Homo sapiens: one gene and its partners. The protein of the gene in region 4 interacts with the protein of the main gene of each other region in a pairwise test. Each region holds a gene or a part of one and is shown on either strand. Other genes may lie near its edges. The genes, in order: SCN3B, STOM, CXCR2 and SMCO4.

What was found.
Region 1: the proteins of SMCO4 (region 4) and SCN3B interact in binary tests that used the Homo sapiens proteins (3 or more experiments, as listed by UniProt).
Region 2: the proteins of SMCO4 (region 4) and STOM interact in binary tests that used the Homo sapiens proteins (3 or more experiments, as listed by UniProt).
Region 3: the proteins of SMCO4 (region 4) and CXCR2 interact in binary tests that used the Homo sapiens proteins (3 or more experiments, as listed by UniProt).

The regions. Positions count from the first base shown.
Region 1 is NC_000011.10:123,644,609-123,651,637, forward strand, and holds part of SCN3B (sodium channel regulatory subunit beta-3 precursor), read right to left. Parts: intron 1,143-7,029; coding exon 979-1,142; intron 1-978. UniProt on the Homo sapiens protein: Regulatory subunit of multiple voltage-gated sodium (Nav) channels directly mediating the depolarization of excitable membranes.
Region 2 is NC_000009.12:121,353,248-121,360,276, reverse strand, and holds part of STOM (stomatin), read left to right. Parts: intron 1-4,120; coding exon 4,121-4,224; intron 4,225-5,603; coding exon 5,604-5,676; intron 5,677-6,974; coding exon 6,975-7,029. UniProt on the Homo sapiens protein: Regulates ion channel activity and transmembrane ion transport. Regulates ASIC2 and ASIC3 channel activity.
Region 3 is NC_000002.12:218,129,028-218,136,056, reverse strand, and holds part of CXCR2 (C-X-C chemokine receptor type 2), read right to left. Parts: intron 6,748-7,029; exon of another isoform or gene 6,744-6,747; 5' UTR 6,692-6,743; intron 1,281-6,691; 5' UTR 1,256-1,280; coding exon 173-1,255; 3' UTR 1-172. UniProt on the Homo sapiens protein: Receptor for interleukin-8 which is a powerful neutrophil chemotactic factor. Binding of IL-8 to the receptor causes activation of neutrophils. This response is mediated via a G-protein that activates a phosphatidylinositol-calcium second messenger system.
Region 4 is NC_000011.10:93,477,969-93,484,417, reverse strand, and holds the end of SMCO4 (single-pass membrane and coiled-coil domain-containing protein 4), read left to right. Parts: intron 1-5,133; coding exon of another isoform or gene 5,134-5,228; coding exon 5,229-5,408; coding exon of another isoform or gene 5,409-5,548; 3' UTR 5,549-5,946; downstream 5,947-6,449.

The DNA of each region.
Region 1 (7,029 bases), about 30 Mb from region 4:
TAAAAATACCAAAATTAGCTGGGCATGGTGGTGGTGCCTATAGTCCCAGCTACTGGGGAGGCTGAGGTGGGAGAATCGCTTGAATCTGGGAGGTGGAGGTTACAGTAAGCGAGATCACACCACTGCACTCCAGCTGGGTGACAGAGGGAGACCCCGTTGAGAGAGAGAGAGAGAGAGAGAGAGAGAGAGAGAATATATATATATATATATATATATATATATATATATATATACACACACACATATATACACACACACATACATATATATATATACACACACATATACAACCACTTTGCCACTGGCACCAACCACCCAGAACTGACACTGGCTATGGTGCAGGAGCAGAATCTGGAAGACTCCCAGCTCTGCCAGGAGCGAATCTCTTCGTTTCCAAATCATGGATAAGTCTGGGGGTTCAGCCACTTAGGAGACTCGGCACAGCAAGTATCCACGAGAGAACTGTTTGACATAATTGACTCACTGATGTGGCTGTGCTGGGTGTCCCGGGTGAATGTCACCCTTGGATCACTCTTTGTCATCCCTGTCATTCCTATTTCAATGGGACTGCAGGAGTTAAAGGAGCTAACCTTTGTTATTTCACATAATGATGCTTTGTGTTATTCCAATTTCTTTATGAATTTAATGCATATAATAGGATGGCACAGAAGATTAGATGAAAACACCTGCAAAATGTGTGGTAGGGCGCCTATCACATAGTAGGCTTTAAATATAGCATATCTCTTTCCTCTGCTTCCTCCAGCCCATAATCAAGGGTGCTTGCAGCTGGCCCAGTGCCCTTTCTCTCACAGAAGCTGGGGCTTCACTAAGGCTGTCAGTTATCTGCTGAGGATCTGTCAGTGTTTGGAAGAGAAGGAGCCAGTGTTTGCTAGCTTGGCATCCCCCGGACTGTCAGGAGCCAGGCTGGGAACAGCAGAGGCCAGCAGAAGAAAGGCCAGAGTCAGCAGTCTAACATACAAGGAAATCTTTACCGCCCTCGGGCCTGTAGAACCATTCCACCACCGTGGTGGCCTCCACCTCCTCTCTCTTCATGCAGGAGATGCAGCGCAGCTTCATGGGGTTGCCCTGCACGGCCTCCGTCTCCGAGGGCACTTCCACACACACAGGGAAGCAGACACTGACTGCAGAGAGGACAGATGGACAGGGAAGGAACAGCAGGTGGTGGGGGAGGGGCACAGGAGAGAAACATTGGAGAAGAAGGAGGGAGGGAAGAGAGACAGAGAAGGAAGAGTCATGAGGCCAACCTGAAAAAAGCCACGTGCACATGTCTACACCTTCACCTGCGCTCCCTGAATGTACAGGCTCAGAACGTGTACACATTGGAGGAGACCTGGATGATCTAGACATTGACTGAAATCCTTCCCCTGGAAGCAGTGGAGATGCAGCACCGTACATTATACTTGAGCCCTGCTCTCTAAGTCTTATAGCCCAAATGGGAGACAGGGCATCTACCTACCCAGCAACCATCCATCCCCCTTCATTCCACCACCACTCATTAAAATCCACTCTCTGCCAGGTCTGATGCTAGACTAGAGATGCAAAGATGAATAAAACACTAACCATGCCCTAAATGCATTTATAATCCAATAGGGAACACATATTCCTAACTAGGATTAAACCAGACCACAGCAAGTAACACACTCATGATATATTCTGTTCTTAGAAGACAGGCAGTTAGTTACTCCCAGTTGGCCTGGGGAGAAAGGAAGAGAAGGATGGTGAAACATGAGGCTAGAAAGGTAGGCAGGGCCCATGCTGTGAAGACCTCTGTGTGTCCCTTCCAGTGTGAGGTATCCAATGTTTTAAAGTCGTGGAGAGATGTAATTGTATCTGTGTTGTGTGAAAACTGTAGGTAATTCTGACACATGGTGGAGGTTGGAGCAGCAGTGAAGAAAATGGCGAGCGGACCACTAAGCTGGAACAATGGTCTATGCAGAGGAGTATAGCAAGGCAAGTTAAAATCTGGAGCGGGGTCAGATTGTGGGACACCTTGCATGCCACACAGAGGTCTAAGACTTAGTGTTTCTGCCCTCTAGAAACTTGAAGTCTGTTTTTTAAAAGGAGGCAAGTATATCAGCTTGATAATTCAGAATAACTTGAGCGGGACAAGGCTGCCAGCAAAACATGCGCAAATGTGAGCTGCATTAACAGATGTACAGTACGCAGGAGGAAGGAGGCGTAGTTTCTCGGCACTGTTTTTGGAACAAATCTGGACTATTATGATCAGTTCAGGATGTCACATTTTAAAAAAGGAAGTTGTTCAAAGAGTGCATGCCCAGAGGTGAGGGAGATGGTGAAGGATCTGGAGATAAAGTCTGGTGAGGAAAAAATGGGAGAATTCGAGTTGCTTAGCTTGGACACAGAACATATCTGTCTTCAAATATTTGAAGGCTGGCAGATGGAAGAGAAATTTGATTCTGCCCAACCCTAAAAGTTATAAGAAAAAAATAAGTTTAATGCAATAAAGAAAGAATTTTATGATTTTGGAGCTGTTCACAAATGCAAATAACTAAATGCTAAGAGAGTGTACACAGCATTGTTTGGGATATTTGAAAGTAAGACGAGGCCAGGTGCTGTGGCTCACACCTGCAATCCCAGCACTTTGGGAGGCTAAGTTGAGAGGATTGCTTGATGTTAGGGGTCTGAGACAAGCCTGGGCAACATAGTGAGACCCCTGAGTCTACAAAAATAAAATAAAATAAAAATTAGCCAAACATGGTAACACACAACTGTAGTCCCAACCACTCAGGAGGTAAGAGGATTGCTTGAGCCCAGGAGTTTGAGGCTGCAATGAGCTATGATGGCACCACTGCACTCCAGACTGGTTGACAGAGTAAGACCCTATCTCTTGAAAAAATAAAAACAACATGATGGTCACCGCAGATTCTTATATTAGGACTTTGAAGATCCCTTCTGATGCTACTTTTTCATGAATTAATAATAAAAACAGAACCCCCAGAAAAAAAAAGAAATAATACACACTACATTTAAAAACTAGTCCACTGTTAATGGTCAGCCTGTTCATCTCCTGGCAGAGCGTTCTTTCCTAAAAGCAGAGGAAGGTTTTATTTAGAGCTTAATAAGACACTGCCATAAATTAATTTTGAGTCCAAAAACTGTGTTTGATTGACTTAGAAGGCAATGTATTTATTTTAAAACATGGAGTTTAAAAACTAGTGGCACTAGAATTAACTTAAAGTTGTAAACATCAAGGTAAAATAAATGTAATTGGGTTTTCAACTCTCCAGCAAGCTGGGTGAGTCTTATCTGACAGTCTTCAAGAGGACCTATTGCTTCTGCAGATGGTGAGCCACGTTAATGGAGAGAGGACTCACATCTAGGGAGAACTGATCAGAAACATCTTCAGCATATGATGAGTCTGAAGTATTGATTATAGATCTGATTAAACAAAAAGGAAATGTGGTTTGCGCAAAAGTTTGTGAGTGGGCAGAGGGGTAGAGCGTATGCAGCAAGAACTCCGTGTAGTATGGAACCTCAAGGCACATTCATATTTAATGAGAGCTGGCAAAGATAAATTCATTCATTTCATGTTGACAAACTCAGAAGTGGACTAAGAAGTCTCAAGGAATGCACAGTTACAATTATAGAGGCAGGGTGAAGATAGAATCTGGCAACTGAAGAGTTGGGTTTGATGTACTATGTAATCTCTCTGGACTCAGTTTATTCATCGACATCATGCTGAAAGTTACATCTGTCTAGTAGGTTTATCATGAGAATTTTATGGATTAATTTACATGAATGTGCTTTGTACAAATGTCATTATTCATGTTATTCTATCTTTCGTTTATTTCCCAAATATACTGAGTGCCTTCTGGGTGCCAGGCATTATTCTAAGCACGAAGAATACACCAGAGAACAAAAGAAAAGAATCCCTGTTTTATGGAGCTTACATTCCAATGGAGGGAGAGGGAAAACAGCAACATTAAATAGTAAAAAGTGCTGTGAGAAAAAATAAAACAGGAGAGAGTGTGTGCACAGGGTCATTGGAGGATGGCCTTTCTGAGAAGGTATCATTGAGCAGGCGCTGAAGAAAAGAAATGAGGATACAAGCTATACACATATCTGTGTGAAGGCATGTCAAACACAGGAAATTGCAACTCAAGGGCTCAAGGGGCCCAAAGGAGTGTGTTTGTCATGCTCAACAGACAGCAAACAGTCCAATGTGGAAATTACAGCAAACAACGTGAGAATAGAAGGGGATGAAGTAGTAGGAGGGATGGGGAGGGCCAGATCACAGCAGGTCTTATTGGCCATGTTAGAACCTTGGCATTTGCTTAGAGTTTATGGCATTTGCATGGAGCAGCAGAAGGTTCTGAGAGGAAGAATGATGGGATCTAATTTGTACAAGATCATATGATCTGATGCTGTGTTGGGAATAAACTGATGAAGTGAAAGGGACAAGGGTGGAATCAAAACAGTTAAGAGGTCTGGTACAGGGATCGGATTGGAAGACGATTTTGTTTTGGTGAAGATGACAGTAGAGCTGGTGGAGTTTGAAAGAAATGAAATGCAAGAAAATGATTTGCTGGATTAACATCTTTGAAAAGGTGAGAGGTGATGTGCTCTAGTGAACAAGTAGATGGGATGGCAGAGATAGAAGCATAGTTAGTTCATTTATAGTTAATGGAGGGAAAGCAGTCAGGATGGCAAATGGGGTATGGCAGAAAGTGGGGTAGCCCCTCTCTTTTCTTGGTTGCCCCTAAGGCAACAATAATCCAAGGTATCATCATAGAGCAAGTCCCACTCCTTCCCTTCTGGTCAAAATCTAGTTTCAGGGCATGAGAACTCTGCTCGTATGATCCTGAAGAGTACATTGAAAAATGGCCACAAAGTTCCCCCACCTCTGTTTGCTTGCCTTTTGCAGTATGACTTGCTGCTCCTTGCTTCAAGAGGTAATGTCTGTTTCTCCATCCTTTGAGTCTTCAGCACACCACTGTCTTTCTTTCTTTCTCCTTTCTTTTTCTTTTCTTTCTTTTTTCTTTCTTTCTTTTTTTTCTTTCTTTCTCTTTCTTTCTTTCTTTTTTTCCTCTCTCTCTCTCTGTCTCTGTCTCTCTCTCTTTCTTTTTTTTTTAGATGGAGTTTCACTCTTGTCACCCAGGCTGGAGTACAATGGCATGATCTCAGCTTACTGCAACCTCCGCCTCCTGGGTTCAAGCGATTCTCCTGCCTCAGCCCCCTGAGTAGCTGGGATTACAGGCACCTGCCATCACGCCCAGCTAATTTTTGTATTTTTAGTAAAGACAGGGTTTCACTATGTTGGCCAGGCTAGTCTCAAACTTCTGACCTCAGGTGATCTACCCACCTTGACCTCCCAAAGTGCCGGGATTACAGACATGAGCCACAGCACCCAGTCCACCACTGCCCTTCTTTCTATGAAACCCTCTAGGTATTCAAAGAAGGCTGTAAATATGGCAGGAGCTCAAACTACATTGCTGACTAAAAGTAACAAACTCTTGGAATAATGTTGACCAAATCATTTGACCTTTGTTCTTCTCTTCAATTCCCATAATAATAATGAAGAAATTTATGAGAAGGAAAAACATGATTATTAATAATGATCATATTTCACTAGGGAGTAGTAGCATCCATCTATCATGAGGCAGATAATAAAGAATTATGAACCAGCTTCTCTGATACCCTCAAATCTTTCTCTTCTTTGGACAATGCCCAATTTTTCCTCCTGAGATTGCTCTAGAATGCTTTCCTTTGCACTGAGATAATGAAAAATTTGATTAGAATATAAACAATTTCCAAAAAGGGGTAATAAATGAGGTTATTTTTAGATGCTGACACCCTGACGTGACTTGTTCTGTCAATTTAGCTGGTCACTTAGGGCCTTGAATAGGATGCACGAAAGATCACCAGGGGAAGAGAGGAAAACACACAGGGCAACTAGAAGGGCAGGCCTGGAGAAGAAGGGCAGAGAAGGTACTAGGTGCTAGTGAGTGAGGCCCTAGGACAGGTGATGGTGTTGGGGAGAGATGGGACGGTAGCTCAGAAGAGAAATGGGAGGACAGGTGCCCTCCTGGCGATTGTGCATAGTAGCACATGTGTCCATGAGAGGTGCTAGAAGGAGCACTGGAAGACTGAAATCAGAAAACAAGGGTTCTCTAGCAAGTCCTTTCCCTTCCCCGAGCTCATTTTCTCATCTCTAAACTGGAAATAGCACTCTTTCCCCTGACTACCTCAGGGATAGACATGAGGACCAAAACAAGCAATGTATTGAAAATTACATTGTAAACTGTGATGCACAGGCAAATATAGGGTTTTATTTATTTATTTATTTTAAAGGCTGGGCATGGTGACTCATGCCTATAATCCTAGCATTATGGGAGGCTGAAGCAGGAGGATTACTTGAGCCCAGGAGTTAGAGACCAGCCTGGGCAATATGGCGAGACATCGTCTGTATTAATTTTTTTAATACAATTATTATTATTTTATTGTATTAATTATTTATTGTATTAATTATTTATTGTATTGTATTATTTTTTAAATCTCTTTAAAAAATAAAAATTATTACATGCTTTAACAAAGGAAATAAGGAAACTTTTTTTCATGCATGCAGAAAGTAAATGGAAAGACTCTTTCCCTTCATATTGTACATCATATTAAAAAATCAACTTTGGAAGGGGGAACACATCTAACCCAGCATTATTGTTCAATATTGGAATTGCATGCAAATCAAATGAAATTGTATCTGTGAAGGGCGGCTGTTTTTCTTTCTTTTTTTTTTGATGGAGTCTCGCCCTGTTGCCCACGCTGGAGTGCAGTGGCACAATCTTGGCTCACTGCAACCTCCACCTCCCAGGTTCAAGCAATCCTCCTGCCTCAGTCCCCCTAGTAGCTGGGATTATAGGCACGCACCACTATGCCCGACTAATTTTTGTATTTTTAGCAGAGATGGGGTTTCGCCGTGTTGGCCAGGCTGGTCTTGAACTCCTGACCTCAGGTGATCCACCCGCCTCGGCCTCCCAAATTGTTGGGATT
Region 2 (7,029 bases), on a different chromosome or scaffold from region 4:
ACAAGATATAAGTGCCATAAGATAATTTTCAAAAAATGCTATCGAGATTCAAAGGAAAGAAAAAGACATATCTAGCTAGAAAACTTGCTGAGAAGTATTTTATTTTATATCTATTCTACTATGCAGGATACTGTGCTAGACATTGAGAATATAAAAGTGAATAAGCAACATCCCTGCCCTCAGGGAGTTTTTACTCTAGTATGTTATGGGAGACTTGGACAGTATTTGAAAAGGCACCAAATGCTGTCAGATAAATAAGTATTTGTGGTCAGTCTGTCCTTGTTTGGAATTCATTTCACCCTGGAAACCTAGACCTGTGTCTGTCACAGAGCCTTGAAACTATCTTTTGCTATAAATAGGCATGGCTGGCATTAAGAGGACTTCCTCTGTAAAAATATCAGATTTCATTCTCACAACTCCAGCCATGCTTTTCAGTTTGGATACTGTCTTGAGAAAGTGCTCAACCACGAAAACATTCTTAATGAGGATTTTTTTTATTGAGGGGTGAATTTGGAACACGGGCTTTGGAGTAAGATGACCCATATTTGAGTCCCAGGTCTTCCATTGTGTGACTTTGGGAAAGTTAAATGTTGCTTTAGGTAACTCATTTGTAAAAGGGATTTAAAAATACCCTCACAGGGCTGTTGTAAGAGTTAAATGAGATACATGTCTAAAGTAACTTTAAAAAATGCCTGGGGTATACACAACCCCTCAAAACAGCCACTGTTGCTATGATCAGTCATGGTAATACTAGATAAAGCTTTCTTCACAAACAGTACTATGGCCCTGCTTTGAATATTCTCTCAATGAATATGTCTGTACCCCCTAAATTATAACTTAGAAACCTCCAGGATTACTTTAGATCATTTTATTTAAGTATACATGAAGACATTTACCTCACACTATAACACAGGATCAGAAAACTACCAAGTCACATACAACCCAAGTACTCACTATATTTCTGATTTTTCATCCTATGTTTTAGAGCACTTGACCTGGGTGCCAACATGTGTCTCTCTTCTCCCATGTTCCCAGCCTGAACACTCTGCTTATTTCTTGGCCTCCTATTTATTCCAAGCCCCATCTTACTGCCATTTTGCCCTTTCTTCTGAGCAGTAACATGTGCCTGGCATACCTTTTCTCCCCTCTGTCATTAAAATAGCTCCTGAAAATACAGCAGAAGCCTTCCAAGTGGTTGATAAGAAAACCTACTATATCCCTTGGCCTTCTCAGTCCCTATGTCCTCTACAGAAAGCAAAAGCAAACTAAAAATGAGGATGACACTTGATACAGAAAATAGGAACACAACACTGAGGTGATGGGAGTTCCCAGGATGATAGTGAAAGCAATTGCAGAATGATAGCCGTGCACACCAGATGAAGGAAGTCCACACAAGGCTCTGAGAGAGAATTCTTCCAGAAGATAAAATTGATAGTATACCTGACCTCTTTGAGAGGAAATTTAGGCAATTGATTTAAGGTTGGATCAATAAGTACGTTGAAAACCGAACAAAGGGAAAAAATAAGACAGTAATTCCAGAAAAAACAAAAATAGTACAGGAAGAGAAAACCAGTGATACCTCACTACTTGGCTTAGCTTTAAATTGCACTTACAAATTCATAATATAAAATCTCATATTGATCTAAATGAAGTTATGATGTAATTATATTGGAAAGCTGGGTATAAGTATGTGGTGGGGGTAACGGGGAGGAAAGAGAACTAAATCTTTTTCTGTAGTAGAAAGTTAATAGTCCTCAAAACTGAAAAAGCAAGAAGTAACAAAACAAGCATTTCCTTCCTTCCTTCCTTCCTTTTCTTTCTTTCTTTCTTTCCTCACTTTGTTGTCCAGGCTGGGGTACATCACAGCTCACTGCAGCCACGAACCCCCAGGCTCAAGCAATCCCCCTATTTCAGTCTCCTCAGTAGCTGGGACTACAGGTGTGTGCCACCACACACAGCTAATTTTTTTTAAGAAGTTTCAAGTAGAGATGGGAGTCTCACTAGGTTGCCCATGCTGGTCTCAAACTCCTGAGCTCAAGCAATCCTCCCATCTCGGCCTCCCAAAGTGCTGGGATTACAGGCGTGAGCCACCATGCCTGGCAGAAGCATATTATTATTATTATTTTTTTTTTTTTTAAAGTAGAGACAGAGTCTCCCTATGTTGCCCAAGCTAGTCTCAAACCCCTGGGCTCAAGGGATCCTCCCTCCTCAGCCTCCCAAAGTGCTGGGATTACAGGTGTGACCCCTGCACCCAGCTGCAAAGCGTATTATTTAGAAATATGGAGGTAGATATCAAAATGGTCAAAATAGCAAATGTTTTTGAGGAGGAGGAAATTGGAAGAGGTGAGCATGGGAATGCCCTTTTTTTGTACTAATCATATAGAATGGTTTGACTTTTTAAACTTTATGCAAGTGTAACTTCAAAAACACAAATGCATAACCACGAAGGCCAAAAAAGAAGGTGAAAGAGAATAGCTACAGGGAAGAAAAATAGGTTACACATTTTATTTATTTATTTATTTTTAAAAATATGATTTAAGGCCGGGCGCAGTGGCTTATGCCTGTAATCCCAGCACTTTGGAAGGCCATGGTGGGCAGATCACTTGACGTCAGGAGTTCGAGGCCAGCCTGGCCAACATGGTGAAACCCCATCTGTACTAAATACAAAAAGTAGCCGGGTGTGGTGGCAGGTGGCTGTAATCCCAGCTACTCAGGAGATTGAGACGGGAGAATCGCATGATCCCAGGAGGTGGAGGTTGCAGTGAGGTGAGACTGTGCTGCTGCACTCCAGCCTGGGCAACAGAGCAAGACTCTGTCTCAAAAAATAAATAAATAAATATATATATATATATCATTTAAAAATATGGTGTGTACACTAGGAAAATTTTCAAAGAATATACCAAAATACCTCTGAATTTAAAGTAATTTTTCCCTCCTTTGTTATACTTCTGTGAATTTTTTGCATTATTACCTTTGTAATCAGACGGAAAAGCTGTTGCATATTACAGGAACAGGAAACAATTAGAAATGTGAGAGGAAAGCCGTGTACAAAGATGTTCACTACAACACTGTTTATAGCACTAAGAAATCAAACAACCTGTGTAATCAGGAAGTGGGCAATAAATGATGCTGCATAAACCTAGTGAAATATTTTACAGGTGTAATTTTTAAAAAGAGGCTCTAAACAACTTTATACTCATATCATATGGTTTTCACCTTTATTCGTACTGTACTCCTAGCTAAAATGCTCTAATGCCTTTTCCCTCTTTCCTTTTTCTTTTCTTTTCTTTTCTTTTGACAGATTCTTCCTCTGTTGCCCAGGCTGGAGTGCAGTGGTACAATCTTGGCTCACTGCAACCTCCACCTCCTGGGTTCATGCAATTCTCCTGCCTCAGCCTTCCCAGTAGCTGGGATTACAGGCACTCACCACAACGCCTAGCTAATTTTTGTATTTTTAGTAGAGACGGGGTTTTATCATGTTGATCAGGCTGGTCTTGAACTCTTGACCTCAAGTGATCCACCTGTCTCGGCCTCCCAAAGTGCTGGGATTACAGGCGTGAGCCACGACGCCCAGCCTCCACTTTCTTTTCGTCGATATTTTCTTACTATTACATCCTTCAGGAAACCCTCTGACAGCCACCTGAATCACCTCCCCGCCCCATTCCTTTCTCACCTCCATCCTAACTGCGTGAGTTAACTCATTCTGTGTCTTCAAAATATTCTGAACAGATACTCTATATCTGTACTTACCACCTAATATTATAATTATGTGTTTGTCTGACTTTCCCACTAAACTTTAACCCTGAAAGCTGGGATTGGGTCTTACTCATTGTTATCATTTCAGTACAAAGCAGAGGGCCTAATAAATAGTAGATGCTTAATAAATGTTTGCTGAATAAAGTAATGAGTAATGTGGAAATATACTTGTGTTATGACATCACATAGATAAGGGAAAGTAGTACTTACACTTCAGGGCTGTATGAGGATTAGATGGGGAAATTCATGTAAAACAGCTGGTGTAGTGCCAAGCACATAGGTATTCAGCGAATGGTAAGGATGAAGATGGTGGTGATTATGCTAGTAACAGTTGTGAGAGTTGTATATTTTTTGTTTTCAACAGACAGCCCCAGTAAGGGCCTTGGACCTTGCGGATGGATTTTGGTGGCGTTCTCATTCTTATTCACCGTTATAACTTTCCCAATCTCAATATGGATGTGCATAAAGGTAAAGAACATTTCATTCACTTCTGGGAAGGGGTCAACTCCTACCTCCATAAACCTACTTCGTGTGTGCCTGTGTGTATGTGAGAAAGAAACAGACTGTCTCTCTCTCTTATAATTCTTATTTCTTCATCTTTCTTTGGAAAATTTATTCTTCTACCCACCTATTAAAATGGAACCTTAAAACTTCTTTTCAGCCATTGCCCTTCCCCGTGGGCTAAAGTAAGTTTCACCATCAAAAATTTCCTGGGGCCAGGGATGTGAGATGGTTCTGAGAGAACAAGTTCTTCAGAGTTAGGATGATAGGGTTTGACTGCTGGCTTTACTGTTTATTGTGTGACCTTTGCTGTTTCCTCACCTGTAAAATGGGAGAAAGTAACAGTACCTACTTCATAGGAGTGTTGCGAGGATTAAATGAATTATGTGTCTAAATGTACTTATCACAATGCCTGGCACGTCATAAATACCCTCAGTGCTCGTTATTTTTTCTACAAAGTTGTTAATACTTTGATATATGACTATTATTTACATATTTCTAAGAAGATAAAATATGCTCCAAGCATTTTCAGATCAATTTATTCTTAAGGGAATCAGAAGAAAAACTGTGAAGACTTCAGCTTTTTGTGTTTCTGAATTAACAATGCATGAGTAATTTTTTTTTTTTTTTTTGAGCCAGAGCCTTGCTCTGTCGCCCAGGCTGGAGTGCAGTGGCGCGATCTCGGCTCACTGCAACCTCCGCCTCCCAGGTTCAAGCGATTCTTCTGCCTCAGCCTCCCGTGTAGCTGGGATTATTATTATTATTATTATTTTTTTTTTTTTTTTTTTGAGACGGAGTCACCTTGTGGCCCAGGCTGGAGTGCAGTGGTGCGATCTCGGTTCAAGTGATTCTCCTGTCTCATCCTCCCTTGTAGCTTGGATTATAGGCACCCACCACCATACCCGGATAATTTTTGTATTTTTAGTAGAAACAGGGTTTCACCATGTTGGCCAGGCTGGTCTTGAACTCCTAACCTCCGTGATCTGCCCACCTCGGCCTTCCAAAATGCTGAAATTACAGGCGTGAGCCACCGTGCCTGGCCTGCATGAGTAACTGAATAACAATGTTAACAGCTGAGGAGTGAGGTTATGGATTTGTTTCTGTATACTATTCTGTCCTTCCTAAATTTATACAGTGAATATCTATTGCTTTTGTAATCAGTAAGAAAATAATAAATAAGCTTTGAGAAGGTAAACATTGGACATGTGATTTATAGATATGATCTGGTTCTAAAGAAAAAAGATGAGGCATCTAATCTGTTTAGAGCAGAAATATATATTTAAGAAGCCATGCATGTATATATTTGTACTCTTCATGTTAAATTATTATTCATGTTTTTATTCTAGATTATAAAAGAGTATGAAAGAGCCATCATCTTTAGATTGGGTCGCATTTTACAAGGAGGAGCCAAAGGACCTGGTCAGTACTGGGATTCTAGATTGTTTATCTGAAAACTAAAGTTCTTTTTATTTTTTTTATTTTTAGGTAGTTGTTTTTTTAAAGACAGGGTTTCATTCCGTCGCCCAGGCTGGAGTACAGTGGCATGCTCATGTCTCACTGCAGCCTTGAACTCCTGACCTCAAGCAATCATCCCACCCCAGCTTCCCAAAGCACTAGGATTACAGACGTGAGCCACCGTGCCCAGTCTAAAATTTTTTTATTGACGTGATTTCCCTTATGAGGGCCTCTTCTACTCTGTCTTAGATAAGAGTTCATGTAGCAGGAGTTGTATAACAATAGCAGTGGTTCTAGCCAATCTTTTGTTACCCTTTCCTTCCTACCCTTCCCCTCCCCTTCCCATTTGAGCTGATAAGATTACCACCTAGGCCAAGAACAGTACAGCTATACAAGTTTGAGCATGAGAATCTCTACCAAAGAAAGACTTTCAGTCATTCATTTGGCAAACTTCAATTAAGCTCCTACTGTGTTCCAGGTTCTGGGAATTCAAGGGAGACTAAAACACAGTCCCTACCCTCAAGGATCTTCCTATCTAGTGGTAGGAACCAACAAGGAAACAGATAGCTACAATCCTATGTGATAAGTATTATGATCAAGTACTCACAGAGAGCTGTGAGAAAAGAGAAAACCAGAGAAGTGTTACTGATCTGAACTAGTCGTAGGCTGAGTCAAGGCTTTCTGGAAGTTACATCTTGACTGAGTCTTGAGGTCTGAAAAGGTGTTAACCAACAGGAGGTGTTTGCGGCGGAAATAGCAACATACACAAAGCAACAAAGAGGAGAGTATTGCAGATTCAAGAAACTGCAAGTAGATCAGTCCAGCAAGAGTGCAGGGTGTGAAGAGAGAGGAAGTGGCTGAAGAGGGGAACAAAGGCGGGTTATGCAGGACCATGCGTGGGGGAGGGTTTGTATTTTAGGGGGGATTGCTCGGCTTGCAGCTTAGGAAATAGATTATAGGAGAGAAACTACAAAAAATAGAAAGATGGCCTGGGAAACGATTGCATTGGTCCCAGTGGGGCGGTGGGGAGAAGAGTGATAGCAACAGTAGATTAAGGAAATGAACTCCACAGACCTTAGTGGAGACAGTCAAATGTGGGAAGTAAGCAAGAGGAATCAAAGTTATCATTCCTGGCTTCTGGCTCATTCACGAAGATGAACTGGTGACTTTTCAGTTCACTAGGTTGATTTTCTTAAAACTGAATGGAGAAGTGAACTGATTAGGTTGCTGGTGTCTGTATAATGTGTGTATCTTTGTTGCAGGTTTGTTTTTTATTCTGCCATGCACTGACAGCTTCATCAAAGTGGACATGAGAAC
Region 3 (7,029 bases), on a different chromosome or scaffold from region 4:
TTTCTAAACCATGCAAGGGAAACTAGTAAGAACGTGGCCTCCTCTACTTCCTGTGACCACAATGGGGGCTGCATTGACACTGAGACCAAGAAGAACCAGTGGACATGAGGCTTGGAATGTGACTGTGAAGAGAAGGGAGGAACCCCACGGGGCTGCACTTAGGCAGGAGGTCTTAGAGAGTAGTGGAAGTGTGCCCTGAAGAAGAGCCAACAAAGGAAGGCCTGCTGTCTTTGGGCAGGGAGTCCTTGCTGATCAAGCCATGTATAGCTAGAATCTTGAGGAGTCCATGGCGAAACTTCTGGCCAATGAAGGCGTAGATGAGGGGGTTGAGGCAGCTGTGAAGGATGCCCAGAATCTCGGTGGCATCCAGAGCCCGGTCGATGTGATTGCGGCGCTCACAGGTCTCCTGGATCACCTGGGTCCTCATGAGGGTGTCTGCCAGCAGGACCAGGTTGTAGGGCAGCCAGCAGAGCAGGAAGATGAGGACGACAGCAAAGATGACCCGCATGGCCCGGTGCTTCTGCCCCATGTGGGCCTTAAACAGCGTACGCAGGGTGAATCCGTAGCAGAACAGCATGATCAGCAGTGGCACGATGAAGCCAAAGGACTGGGGCAGGATCCGTAACAGCATCCGCCAGTTTGCTGTATTGTTGCCCATGTCCTCATAGCAGGCTGGGCTAACATTGGATGAGTAGACGGTCCTTCGGAAAAGTAAGACAGGCAGGGCCAGGAGCAAGGACAGACCCCAGATGCTGAGACATATGAATTTGACCAAGTAGCGCTTCTGGGTCAGTGTGCGTGTGGCATGGACAATGGCCAGGTAACGGTCCACACTGATGCAGGCCAGTAGCAGGATGCCACTATAGAAGTTGACTTCCTTCAGGAGTGAGACCACCTTGCACAGGAATGTGCCAAAAATCCAGCCATTCACCTTGGAGGCGGCCCAGATGGGCAAGGTCAGGGCAAAGAGTAGGTCGGCCAAGGCTAGGTTCAGCAGGTAGACATCAGTGACGGAGCGGCCGACCCTGCTGTATAAGATGACCAGCATCACGAGGGAGTTTCCCAGCAGGCTCAGCAGGAATACCAGGGCATAGATAATGACCACAAAATACTTGTTGATTTCCAGGGATTCTGGTTCACATGGGGCGGCATCTAGTAGAAAAGGGGGCAGGGTAGAGCTGTAACTGTAATTACTAAGATCTTCACCTTTCCAGAAATCTTCAAAGCTGTCACTCTCCATGTTAAAATCTTCCATTTTTGAGGTAAACTTAAATCCTGACCTATAGAAGAGAGATGAAGGTTACTGCATAATAAATTCCCCATATTCTTGCCCATCCACTCAAGAAACTGGGATAGGATTCTTTGTGTTGGCTTGAGTATTACAATGTAGTAATTTTTCCCTTCAAATTTGTAAGTGGTAGCTCTTAGGTTATGAGATAAATTTGGTGATAAATGGTACATTTTATGAGAGGACCATAGTTCTCTTTAATATAAGAGAGAAATTCTTAGCATTTCTTTTAGCATCGCCATCACCTAAAACTTTGTAGAAAGTTCTCTTTGGATAATCCCCACAGAACCCTCAATACTACCTGGATCCTTCAGTGGCGAGCATCTTTGGCTATCAAGGCTGGGTTTAATGTTCAGAAATGTGAGATGTGAGATGTCACTCAGTTCTTTTTTTTTTGTCTTAGAGATGGGGACTTGTTATGTTGCTCAGGATGGTCTTAAACTCCTGACCTTAAGTAATTCTCCTGCCTCTGTCTCCCAAAGTGCTGGGAATATAGGCATGAGCCACTGCACTCAGCCCCATTCAGTTTTTAATCAGGGGATTAAGCAGGAACTCCAAATGGGCTATACCCTCAGAAAAGATCATGGTTTGACTATAAAGCTGAGACATGAATCCCTTTGTTCAATTTTCTAAAAGTTATTTTAAAAGATGTATTCTGGAAAATGGTTTGAACAATTGTGGCATGGAGTTTTGGAAGGCTCGAGCTAGCAGAGTCTTCAGTTAATTAGTAAGGCCCAGCGTTTCTCTTTTGGGTAGAAGGAGACCCGCTTTGGGAATGTCTGTGTAGTTTGGAAAAGTATATTAAAAACAATAAGCAAGCGGGCTGCCTGATTCTCCCTGTGGGTGGAAACGTAACAGGTTATTTGGGGAGCTCTGGGCAGCCATGTGCCACCATGCGGGATAAGCAGACACAGCCAGTCTGCTACCCAATAAGAGAGGGGCAGCAGGAAGCAGAGAAGACAGGGTTTGCACTACCCTTGCTTGGTGGCTTTCCAGCCCTGCTGGAGACCCTTCCTGTCCTGCATGTGTGTGCCTCCATCTAGCCTTGACTCCCCTGTTCCTCTCAGATTTAGTCTAGCTCCTGGGGCTCTGCCCTTGCCACAGGGACAGCACAGATCCTGCTCTGGGGAAGCCTGGGTGTGGAGGGTGGGCTGCAGTTATTCAAAAATATTATCCCAGTGGTGGCTCACACCTGTAATCCCAGCACTTTGGGAGGCTGAGGTGGCAGATCACTTGAGGTCAGGAGTTTGAGAGCAGCCTGGCTAACATGGTGAAACACTGTCTCTACTAATAATACAAAAATTAGCCAGGTATGGTGACGTGCACCTGTAATCCCAGCTACTTGGGAGGCTGAGGCACAAGAATTGCTTGAACCCAGGAGGTGGAGGTTGCAGTGAGCCGAAATCACATCACTGCACTCCAGCCTGGGCAACAGAGCGAGACTCTGCCTCAAAAAAAAAAAAAAAAAAAAAAAAAAATCCCAGTTTCTCAAAGCAGTCAACTAAAGCAATCCAGCTCCCTAATTAGCTTCTTTCTGAACCACAAAATAGATCACCCTCCGGCCATTGCCTTAGAGTAAGGGATGACCACCCTACCACCAACCATGTCCAAGTCCGTAATCTACCCCCAAAATGGAACCCAGTGTGAGAGAAAAACCAGGAAGTTAAAGGTCCCAGAACCCACTTCACACTCACCAGGCTGGGCACACTCAGAAAAAGATGCCCAAGAACAATGTGGGTGAGGAAGTGGAAAAGTCAGAACTCTCCCACATTGCAGGTGGGAATGTAAGATGGTGCAGCTGCTTTGGAAAACAGCTTAGCAGTTGCTCAAAAAAGTTAAACATAGAGTTACCACATGAACCAGCAAACCCCAACCTAGGTATACACCCAAGAGAATTGAAAGCTAATGTTCATAGTAGCATTCATCATTAAGGCCAAAAAGTGGAAACAAACCAAATATCCATCAACTGATGAACGGACAGACAAATTGAGGAACAGTCATGAGCAACTGAAAGACTTTTTGGTCAATGACACATCACAAATACCACAGTGGTCCCATAAGATTATAATACTGTATTTTTAGTGTTCTTTTCCTATGTTTATATATAAGAATACCATTGTGTTATAATTACCTACAGTATTTAGTACAGTAACATGCTGAGTAGGTTTGTAGCCTAGGAGCAGTACTCTACCATATAGCCCATGTGTGTAGTAGGCTATAGCATCGTATACTCTACCATGTTCACATGACATATTTCTCAGAATGCATCCGCATTGTTAAGCAACTTATGACTGTATTATGTACAACAGAATATTATTCAGCCATGAGAAGGAATGAGGTACTGATACACAATACAACATGGATGAACCTTGAAAATGTTAGTCTAGGTGAAAAAAGGCAGACACAAAAGTTTTCTTATTGTGTGATTCCATATATGTGAAATGACCAAAATAGGCAAATGGGTAGAATTGGTAGAGACAGAAAGTAGATTGGTGGTTTCCAGGGTCAAGGGGAGCTGGGAGAGGAATGTTAATGACTACGGAGTTTTTCTTTTGAGTGATAAAAGTGTTCTGGAATTAGTGGCAATGGTTGTAGAATATGCTAAAAACTTTAAATGGGTGACTTTTGGGGTATGTGACTTATGTCTTAATTAAAAAAAAGATTAATCAAAGGGTACACGGCCTTGCAAAGCAAATACAAATATTACAAAAATAACAACAAAAGTCCCAGGGAGGATTTCTTTTTAGCAGAAAGGAAGTCTCTGTTGTCATCAATCATATGTAGCAAAGAAGAAAGCTGAAGAAGATTAAGCAAAACTGGAAAAATAATGCCACTTTTCCCCCAAGAGTGATGGAATTCTTAGCCATCACCTTCCTGACAAGTTTTTAGTTTCTCTTTTAAGAGTTAGGGGCCAGATACATTGCCTTCCCAGCATGCCGAGGCAACTGATGGAGAAGATTCAATCAGTTGTAATGTACTATACTAGATCACAACAATAAAAGTTAACATTTGGGCCGGGCGTGGTGGCTCCCAGCACTTTGGGAGGCCGAGATGGGCGGATCATGAGGTCAGGAGATCGAGACCATCCTGGCTAATGCAGTGAAACCCCGTCTCTACTAAAAATACAAAAAATTAGCTGGGCGTGGTGGCGGGCGCCTGTGGTCCCAGCTACTCGGGAGGCTGAGGCAGGAGAACGGTGTGAACCCGGGAAGCGAAGCTTGCAGTGAGCCGAGATGGCGCCACTGCACTCCAGCCTGGGCGACAGAGGAGACTCCGTCTCAAAAAAAAAAAAAAAAAAGTTAACATTGTACTTTATGTATGTCTTACGTAATTTATAAGCAATCCCTCATTTCTGGCCCTGCCTGGCCAGAAGGCTGGGGAGGTATTGAGAGGGCTGGGAATACAGCTTGCTGGACCAGTATGGTCAGCAAGACCTGAAAGAAGTCACCAGCTCCTCAGTCCCATGGTTGAGAGCAAGTTTGCTGAGAGGCCCAGGGTATGTCCAATGAAGTCAAGAGGTCAAGGGTGGATCACTTCTGGGAGCAGATGATTACAGATGCTCTTAAGGGAACAAATGACCCAACAGAAGACCCATCTTTGAGAGTAGATGTAGGGCATATTGGGTGCAGAGAGCTTGTGCTCTTAGAGAGCAGGGCCTTGTATGTATGAATATTGGCTGTGAGAAGCCAGGACTGAGGCTGCTGCAGAAACTGCCATGTCAGCACAGGCAGCAGTGGCAGAGCATGTTTCACAGGTAAATCCTCACTGTGGATAATCCAGTGCTCAGCTGTGCTGGGGGTGGGCTGGAGGTGTATGGGTGAGCTCATGCTCCCAGGCATTATGGGTCAGCTTCAGGTTCCAGAGGGAGAGCATGCAAGTCAGGACAGAAGGTAGAGAACTCAGCAAGGAGAACCAGGTCAGGCCAGTGACCTCCAGCTCCTAGGGTAGGGAGAGGGGTGTTTGTTGTTGGTGTTGTTTTTTAGTTTACCAATCTCTACAGAGGATGACTTGGCAGTTAGAGGGACAAACTAAGGGAAGGAGATGACACATCTGAGGTCTGCTTTGTGCCTCACAGGTACATGATCTCCATGGCTCATTACAAATAGATACAATTAGGCCCTGTTTCTAGAAGACTGAGGCACAAGGAGGATCAGCTGACCTAACAGGGAGGCTCAGTAACCAGCCTGCGATCACAGGGTGGAGAAGTGGTGAAACCACTGTTCCAGTGAGGTATAAAGGACTACACTTGCCTTATTTGTAGTCTATAGCCCTTCCTCTTAAAAAAAGTGCACCTCATCTATTAAACATATTTGTAAGCTAAGTTCTCTTTTTCTTTCTTTTTTTCTTTTTTTGATGCAGTCTCGCTCTGTTGCCAGGCTGGAGTGCAATGGCGTGATCTCGGCTCACTGCAACCTCCACCTCCCGGGTTCAAGTGATTCTCCTGCCTCAGCTTCCCAAGTAGCTGAGATTACAGGCGCCTGCCACTGCACCCGGCCAATTTTTGTATTTTAGTAGAGACGGGGTTTCACTATGTTGGTCGGGCTGGTCTCGAACTCCTGACCTCAGGTGATCCGCCCACCTTAGCCTCCCAAAGTGCTGAGATTACAGGTGTAAGCCACCGTGCCCAGCAAAGCTAAGTTCTTGAGATATCATTAAATCAACCTGTATATGGTCCACTCACATTCTTTCATGTTTTATGCATTGTTTTCTTTTGCCGTTTCTTTGGCCCAGAATGAAAGAAACAGCTCTTGCAGGGATGATAAACCAAACACCCTTGAACTGGCTGGGTCCGGCTGACCACACAGTCATATATTCCAGGATAAAAAGGGAGCTTCCTTGACTTAGGGAAAATGCCAGCCCCTTAGTGACTCATGGTAGTTTGGAAACTCCATAGATGATGGCATGAATTCTAATTTATTACATGAAAATGCTATAGAACGAGAGACATTTACAAGATCTCAAACATCTAAGGCAATCTTTTTAACAACAAAAGAGTCATTTTAGTACAGTTCCAGTATTCTTTCTCTCTATAAATATAATCCACAAATATTGCATTTAGTGTCGGGAAGTGGGAAGCGAACAGTGTTCGGCCCATCCTCAGACCCAGTCCTAGCCCAGGCCAGGAGGGCTGGCTGAGTCTTGGAAGGCTGCCAGGCCAAGGGAAAAGCATGGGCAGCAAGTGGCCCTGAGTGGTTGGAGAGGGTTGTGAGGGAGGAGGAACAGAAGTTCTTCCTTTGGGGATGGAGAGCCCCAAAGGGAGAAAATGAAGAGGCCAAGGGGTGAGGGTGAGGGGCCCACCAAGGGTGGGGAGAGATGCTTAGGATAAATGTAGGCTGGGTATCAAGGGAAACAGAGAACAGAGACATTCTAGCTGGTGGGAAGGGTGGGTGTTCCAAGACTTACTGGGTCGCTGGGCTTTTCACCTGTAGGACACCTCCAGAAGAGCAGCTGTGACCTATGAAAGGGAGGTGGTGGTGAGAACACAGTGGAGGAAGTGAGTGGTAGATTAGATTGCTCAATGCAATTCAGGGGTGGAGCTCCTGAGGGTGCGGGTGATTTTGATAACTTTGAATAATTAGTTCCCAGATCAGCTCTCGGATGCATAGTCATTTCATAGACTCGTAGAGTTTATATTGGGAAGGGACCTGAGGGGTTTTCTACCTAGTCTTTCCATTTTACAGATGGGGAAACTGAAGCCCAAAGGAAATGGCTTGCCCAGGATTGCATGGATTTCTTTCATC
Region 4 (6,449 bases):
AAACCTGTGTTCCTACCATTCCTTAATAGGATCTAACACTCTGTGTACATTATAATCTCCAAATCGGAGAAAAGTGCATATAAGAAGTTAGCATGTGTGCATACATGCATATCTATATACATAAGTAGGAAAAGACGGGAAAGTTCTAATCACAGAAAAAAAATCACAAACAATTCTGTGCTGAAGAATGCGTCCCTGCTTTCCTCCTCTCTGCCTCTGGTCTCCTGCCCACACATACTGGGGACCATTTGGAGTGTCCCCATGCTGACCGGTTGCCGTGGGTGTGTGCTGGTGGGGGGTAGGAGCATAGCAGGTGGAGTTTCATTAGAATTAGTAGAACTCAGGCATTTGTGAAGTTTCCGTTTCCCTGGTTAGGGAAGCTAGAGGCCGTGGGGCACTGGCATTTGAGAAGCTGGAGGCTGCAGCTTCCATCCTGCCTGAGCTGCTTGCTGGGCAGAAGCCAGGCTGAGCGTGTGAGCTTCATTTATTTCTCTCTGCAAGGGGCTGCTGAACCATGATGGGGGCACAAAGTGGGCGAAGGGCGGGAAGATAAGTGGGGTACACCCAGGAAGGTGGGGACTGTCCAGGCTTCAGAGTCACAGATGTGGGTTTGACCTTTGACTCTGCCAGTCCTTTCTTTTGTGTCAGTGGCAGGGCCTTGGATTCTTCCTTGTGAAACTGGAGCAGTCATTTTAGGCAGAGCTCTTTCCAGTGTAAGGGACAGAGACCCCTTGGAGCCAGCCAAAGTTGAAAGAGGCGTTCATCACATACAGAGACACGTCGGAGTACCCTGAGGACAGGAACCTGTGTAGAGCTGGCCTCACAGGGGACTCGACTAGAAGGAGGAGAGTGTGGAGGCTTCTCTTGTGGCCTCTCTGGAGTGCTCCCTCCACCCCCAGGCCTCTCTCCCACCTGGCTTCCCTGGTGACTACAACTGTGTGATTGTCCAACTTCAGTGTCCATTCATGTCTCTTAGATTCTTGAAGTAGAGGCCAGTTGGCCCAGCTTCTCCTTTAGGCAAGCCCACATTTCAGAGGTCCTAGCAGATGTGCTTGAGCCAGCCCTGGCCCAGGAGGCCGCCCGGTGCAGCCCCTGGGCCCAGAGCCATGGTGAGGCGATCCTTAGCCCAGAGGGAGGCGGGCATGGACAGTGCTCTGTGGTGGCCTTTCCACCCTCCAAAAGTGATTGCTTCTTGATTTCTCTTTCCCTGAGTCTGCCTCCCAACTTCCCAGACTTTAAGCTGAAACCTTCTCCTATTTCATTGAAAAAAACAGAAGCCTTTAGTCCCCCAACCCTCACAGTACGGAGCCACCCCTCGCCCCCAGTGCCATCTTCCTACCTCCTCTTGTTGAGTTCAAAGGGTCCTTTGCCTCTCGAAGGCAGGTCTGTCCATTCAGCTTCTTGTCTTGCTCCTACAGAGACCTCTTCTTTTTTCAGTGTCAGGGTTTTCTCCCATTCTATTAGACCCCTCAAACATCATTCTCTAGTTTCGCTTATTATTTAAAGAAAAAGAAAGAAAAACCATTTTGGCCACACACATTCTTCCCACAAAACTTCAAAGCAGTTTTCTGCCCTGGTGCTGTTTGGCGTGCTGGCATGCAGACCCGTCATCACAAGCTACCGGAAGACAGAGGGGCTTGCAGCAGAGTGTCAGCCAGCTCTGCACTGAGCACGTGCCACTGACAGTTTTTCCCTGGCCAAATATTCCCGAGGAAGGAAGCAGTGCGTTCGCTTATGTTCTGGCACAAATGCCTCTGTCTTCTCACAGTTGACCTTCTTGACTGTCTTGGTCCCCACGACAGCACGTTCTCTTTTGCCTCACTCCTTTTCTCTGAGTACCCCATGCTTGCTCTTCCCCTTCCTGCCCTGTAGCTGTCAGGGTGAAAGGACTCAGTCCTGGGCCCTTTCTCTGCCTGCCTTGGACATGATCTCTCTTAATCCAATAGTTGATGACTTCCAAATACAGATCTTCAGCCCAGACCCAGCTCCTGACTCATTTATCCAATTGCCTCCTTGATATTATTTCCATGACGATGTCTAAGAAGCATCCTCACATGCAGAGCACTCAATGCGCTTCTTGAGTCCGCCCTTCCCCAGTGCCCATGCCCTCCCTGGCTCAGGCCACTCTGCCCTCTGCCTGGTGCTCTTCCCAGCTTTTTTCCTGGTTGGTCCCTTTTCACCATAGGGTCCCCTCCCCAGTCGTTATCTCAGAGATGCTTTCCCTTGCTGCCCCAGCTCACAGGTGAGTGAGAGCAGAGACGCTGCTCCTCCTGAAGCCTGATGAAGTACCCAGGATTCAGACGGGCATGTTTGCCCTTTAAATCCTGACCAGACCGGCCCTGGCCCCAGCAGCTTGAGGCTTTTTTCCATGCCTCCAGGAACTTCTGAATGCATCTTACAAATGTTGAGAACTGGTCATTGTGGAGGCTGGGGCCTTTGAATGTCAACTACACTTGTGTGGGTGGATGCAGACAGCAGCATGAAGTGCAGGAGGGAAGTCAGGCCCAGCACTGCTAGCCAGCCAGCCAGGGCATGGCTAGCCCCAGGCCTGGGGTGCCACCTGCCAGTCCTGTGAGGAATTTGGGAGAGACAGCAGCGGGCTCCGACAGGCCATTAGCTCCACAAGGAAATGGCCACGAATCAGAGTGCTGCTAATGGCTTGTTTCTTTTTAAACAATTTTTTTGAGGCCGTGTCGGAGAGAATAGGCTGCCATTTGCAGCTTTGAACAGGAATGCTGTCCATTGCTCTGTTAGAAGCCATGGGGTATTTACAAACTGGGTGACTGTTGGCAAGACATTTTTCCCCTTTGCTCCTTGGTTTCCTCCCTTCCGTGATGGGGATAATAAAGCCTGTCTGTCTGACTCACAGGGCCGTTGGGGTGTGTTCCAGGTGTTGGTATGTCAGCTAGCACGAATTCGCCGCCCGCTCTGTGCCAAGCCCTGAGTTATACAGCTTCCTACTCCATCCTCACCACGGTCCCGCGAAGGTGGGCATCACTCAAGGCTGCAGTCAGGCTTAGAGGAGCTCAGTGCACCCGTCCCTGGGCCGCCCACGGGTATGGGTGGAGATGTCTCAGCCCACCTGTACCGCGTCCCTGCGGGCGGGCAGAGCTCTGGGTACAGATGCATTTGTTTTCCAGATTCTCACAGTCATCCTTTAAGACAAGCTGTTCTCATTGTTCAGATGATGGCATGGAGGCCTAGTGGAGTTAAGTGACTTGCTCAAAGCCATTTAGCCTGTAAGTGATTGGTCCTGGATTTGAAGGCAAGTCTGCCTGGAAGTCCTTTGGAAGACTTGAAAAGGAGAATTGGTAAAGCCAGGGGTTCCTATACCTTTCAGGCCTTAAGAAAGTAATAGTAGGTGTTTTTTTTTTTCTCTCTGTTCCTTATTTCATGAAGGAAATTATACATTTGCCCAAATGGCGCTTCCCTTAATATTTGCTGAACCTTAATGTTTGCTTTTGATTGGCATTATGCCATCCTAGCACAATAATATTTGTCATCTCATACCTTAGGAAACTCTGCCTGATTTTGAATGATACAAAAAAGGTTTTGGGGTCTAAATGGAGTGAGAGGAATGGTAAGAGATTAAGTATCCCTCATAAAAACAGGATGGTGTCAGTAAGACCTTTCCCAACTCTGAGTTCACATTCTACCACCTCGGTCACTTAGGTGTAAATGTCATCTTCCTCCTCAAGATGATGACAGGCCACCCACTACCCTGGGACAAAACAGGGCAGACAGTATACAGCATAGGTCCCTCTGCTAGAGGAACATTGGTATTCAGTGCTCTTCTGCTTCCAAGAACCCCTCACTCCATGCTACTCTCCGAGAATATTGTAATGGACATCTGCCTTTGATATAGCCCTGATACCCAACCCCACTCCGTCACTGTGTTTGAAAAGTACTCTTCCTGCTGTACAAATTGGAAGGCTAGGCTGTGGGCATATGGGCCGGGGCTTGGCTAGTCACACATGCATGGAAGCTGGTGATGCAGAATGCTGGGGGGTGGCGAGTTCATCTGGAGACTGTGCCAGCAGCCACATCTAGTTTTTGGGGGTGGTCATGGTGGCTCGGCACCTCCTGCTCCAGTGCCCATGTCCAGTGCTGACGGTGGTGATGCAGGCTCTGGCATCCTCACACTGGGAGTGTGAGTTGGGCTCCAGTTATGGCAGCACAGCATAATGTCCTGCCCATTTTCTGAGCCTGGTTCTTTGGCTTTTCTGGGAATCAGTGAGATGCCAAAGGCCTTTAAGTAAACTCGATTTAAATCAGCTGAAGTCTGCTTCATCTGCTTAAAGCTAAGAAGCCGACTTTTATAGAGATGTTCCTCTGTAGTTATCCAAACATTTGTATTCATTCTTCTGGCCCCTGAAAGTTCTACTTCACCTGTTAGGCACCTCCGTGAGCTACAGAATTAACAGGAGAATCCCAGGTTGAGTGGGTGGCAGGACTGTGGGCTCAGCCGTCTCCCTTCATTATTACTGTGACCCGGGTCTCCATCATGCCCCCTAGACGGTGACCTCTGTGGGGACACAACTGAGTCCTTCATCTCTATCCTCAGCTCCTTGAGTAATGCTTGGCACACGGTGGGTGCTTGGGAAGGTTTGGATGAATGGGCCAAGGAACCAACAAAGAGATGAGAGAAGTTGATGCCTGTGGGCTCTCTGCAGCCTTAATGAGGCTGGCCTGGCTTGGGCAGGAAGGGGGCTACGTGCCTGGAGACTGCAGGCTGCCTGCAGTTCCATGCTGGAGATGGGCTGGGGAGATCATGGAACTTAGAGCAGGAAAGCAAGTAGCTAGAGCCACGAAAGGGAGAGCCGCTCCTCTGAGTGGAGGCGGCGTAGTTGGTGCTTCCCAATCCTTTCACCTCATGGCATGTACAGAACACAGTATTATTTGTCTGGTACCCAGGGCTTTGTCCAGCTGGCGCTGGAGCGGAGGCCCCTCTCACAGCACACCGGTGACCCAGTGCCCACTACTTAGAGCGCTGATCCCAAGAGAACTTAGAGCCTGGTGTGGCCTCTGTTCTTAGCCCTTTGTCATGTAAGTTGCAGATATTTTTCCTAGTTGTGTATTTGCCTTTAAGTGATTTATTTTTTCTTCTATTTGGTTTATTCTCTACTATCACAGTTGTTCTCTCTACAGGAGGTTCCAGCCTTGGCAAGAGGAGTGTGGCCCTTCCTGGAATCCCTCTGGACACACCCTCCTAGCATCCTCTAGGAAAGATGCGGCAGCTCAAAGGGAAGCCCAAGAAGGAGACCTCCAAGGACAAGAAGGAGCGGAAGCAAGCCATGCAGGAGGCCCGGCAGCAGATCACTACAGTGGTGCTGCCCACGCTGGCCGTGGTCGTGCTCTTGATCGTGGTGTTTGTGTACGTGGCCACGCGCCCCACCATCACCGAGTGAGCCCCGCAGCCGGCTGCGGACCCCATCGGCAGGGAGAGGAGGCGCGGGAGGGGGACGCAAACAAAAAATGGCTTTCATATTCAGAGATGTTCATGTTGCTGAGCTGTAAGCAGGAGCACCCTGTCTTCTCTGGTCTTTGACTTGATTAAAGTATCTCCGCTTTCTTGGGAGGGAATAGGGGATGTTTTATCAGTGAATGTGCCATACACCTTATGGTCCACTTCATGTGCCTTTCAGACTTCAAAGCGCGCGCGCATGTGTGTGTGTGTGTGTGTGTGTGTGTGTGTGTGTGTGTGCTTCTTTTTCTCTCCTAAAAATCGATAAGTAGCTCCACCTGAAGAGGGATGGAACCTCTGGGTCAGGAAACAGCTGGAATCCACACTCACCTCATTCCCATTGTTTGGATCATGCTTCTTTCCAACACGTGTTCACAATCTCCAAAGGGACTGTATTTCTTCTCTGTGCTTAATGTGATTTGAAATATGTTGAATCAAAGTGAAATATTTATTTTTTGAATAAAGGAGATAATAGCCTTAAACTGGATGCTTATCATGTTTTGCAAGGAGGTGCTGTCTGTGGGTCTCCCCCTGCCCACGGGTCTGCCCCTCTTCCCTCCCCTTCCCTTTCTCCTGTGGCTCTCTCCACCTTCCCCAGCACTCCCTCTGCTCATCATTTCTGAGTAAAATTATGCTTTTTGACCGATAATTTTAAGATGGAGAGGGACAGAAAGGGTATATTAATTGGCTTGCTTTAGAAAGTGAGAGTTCTAATTAGACTGTGACGACAGGTGCTTTTTACACCAGTTAGTTTTTCCTACTTCAACTCGGTATGTTTGTGCAAACAGCAATACAGAGTGATCCTGGAAGTAAAGGTCAGGCTTGGTTTTGTTCTTAGCTGAAAGGATGCAAATTGTTGGCATTCCAGCTGAGTTTTCAATGCAAATTGGCTGGAATGGTTGCCTCATTTTATTCTAACAGCACTGCTCAGGCGGTCCTGGTTCCTGATGGAGCAGCCTCTTTTTGGAAGTCAGATTCATGGTTA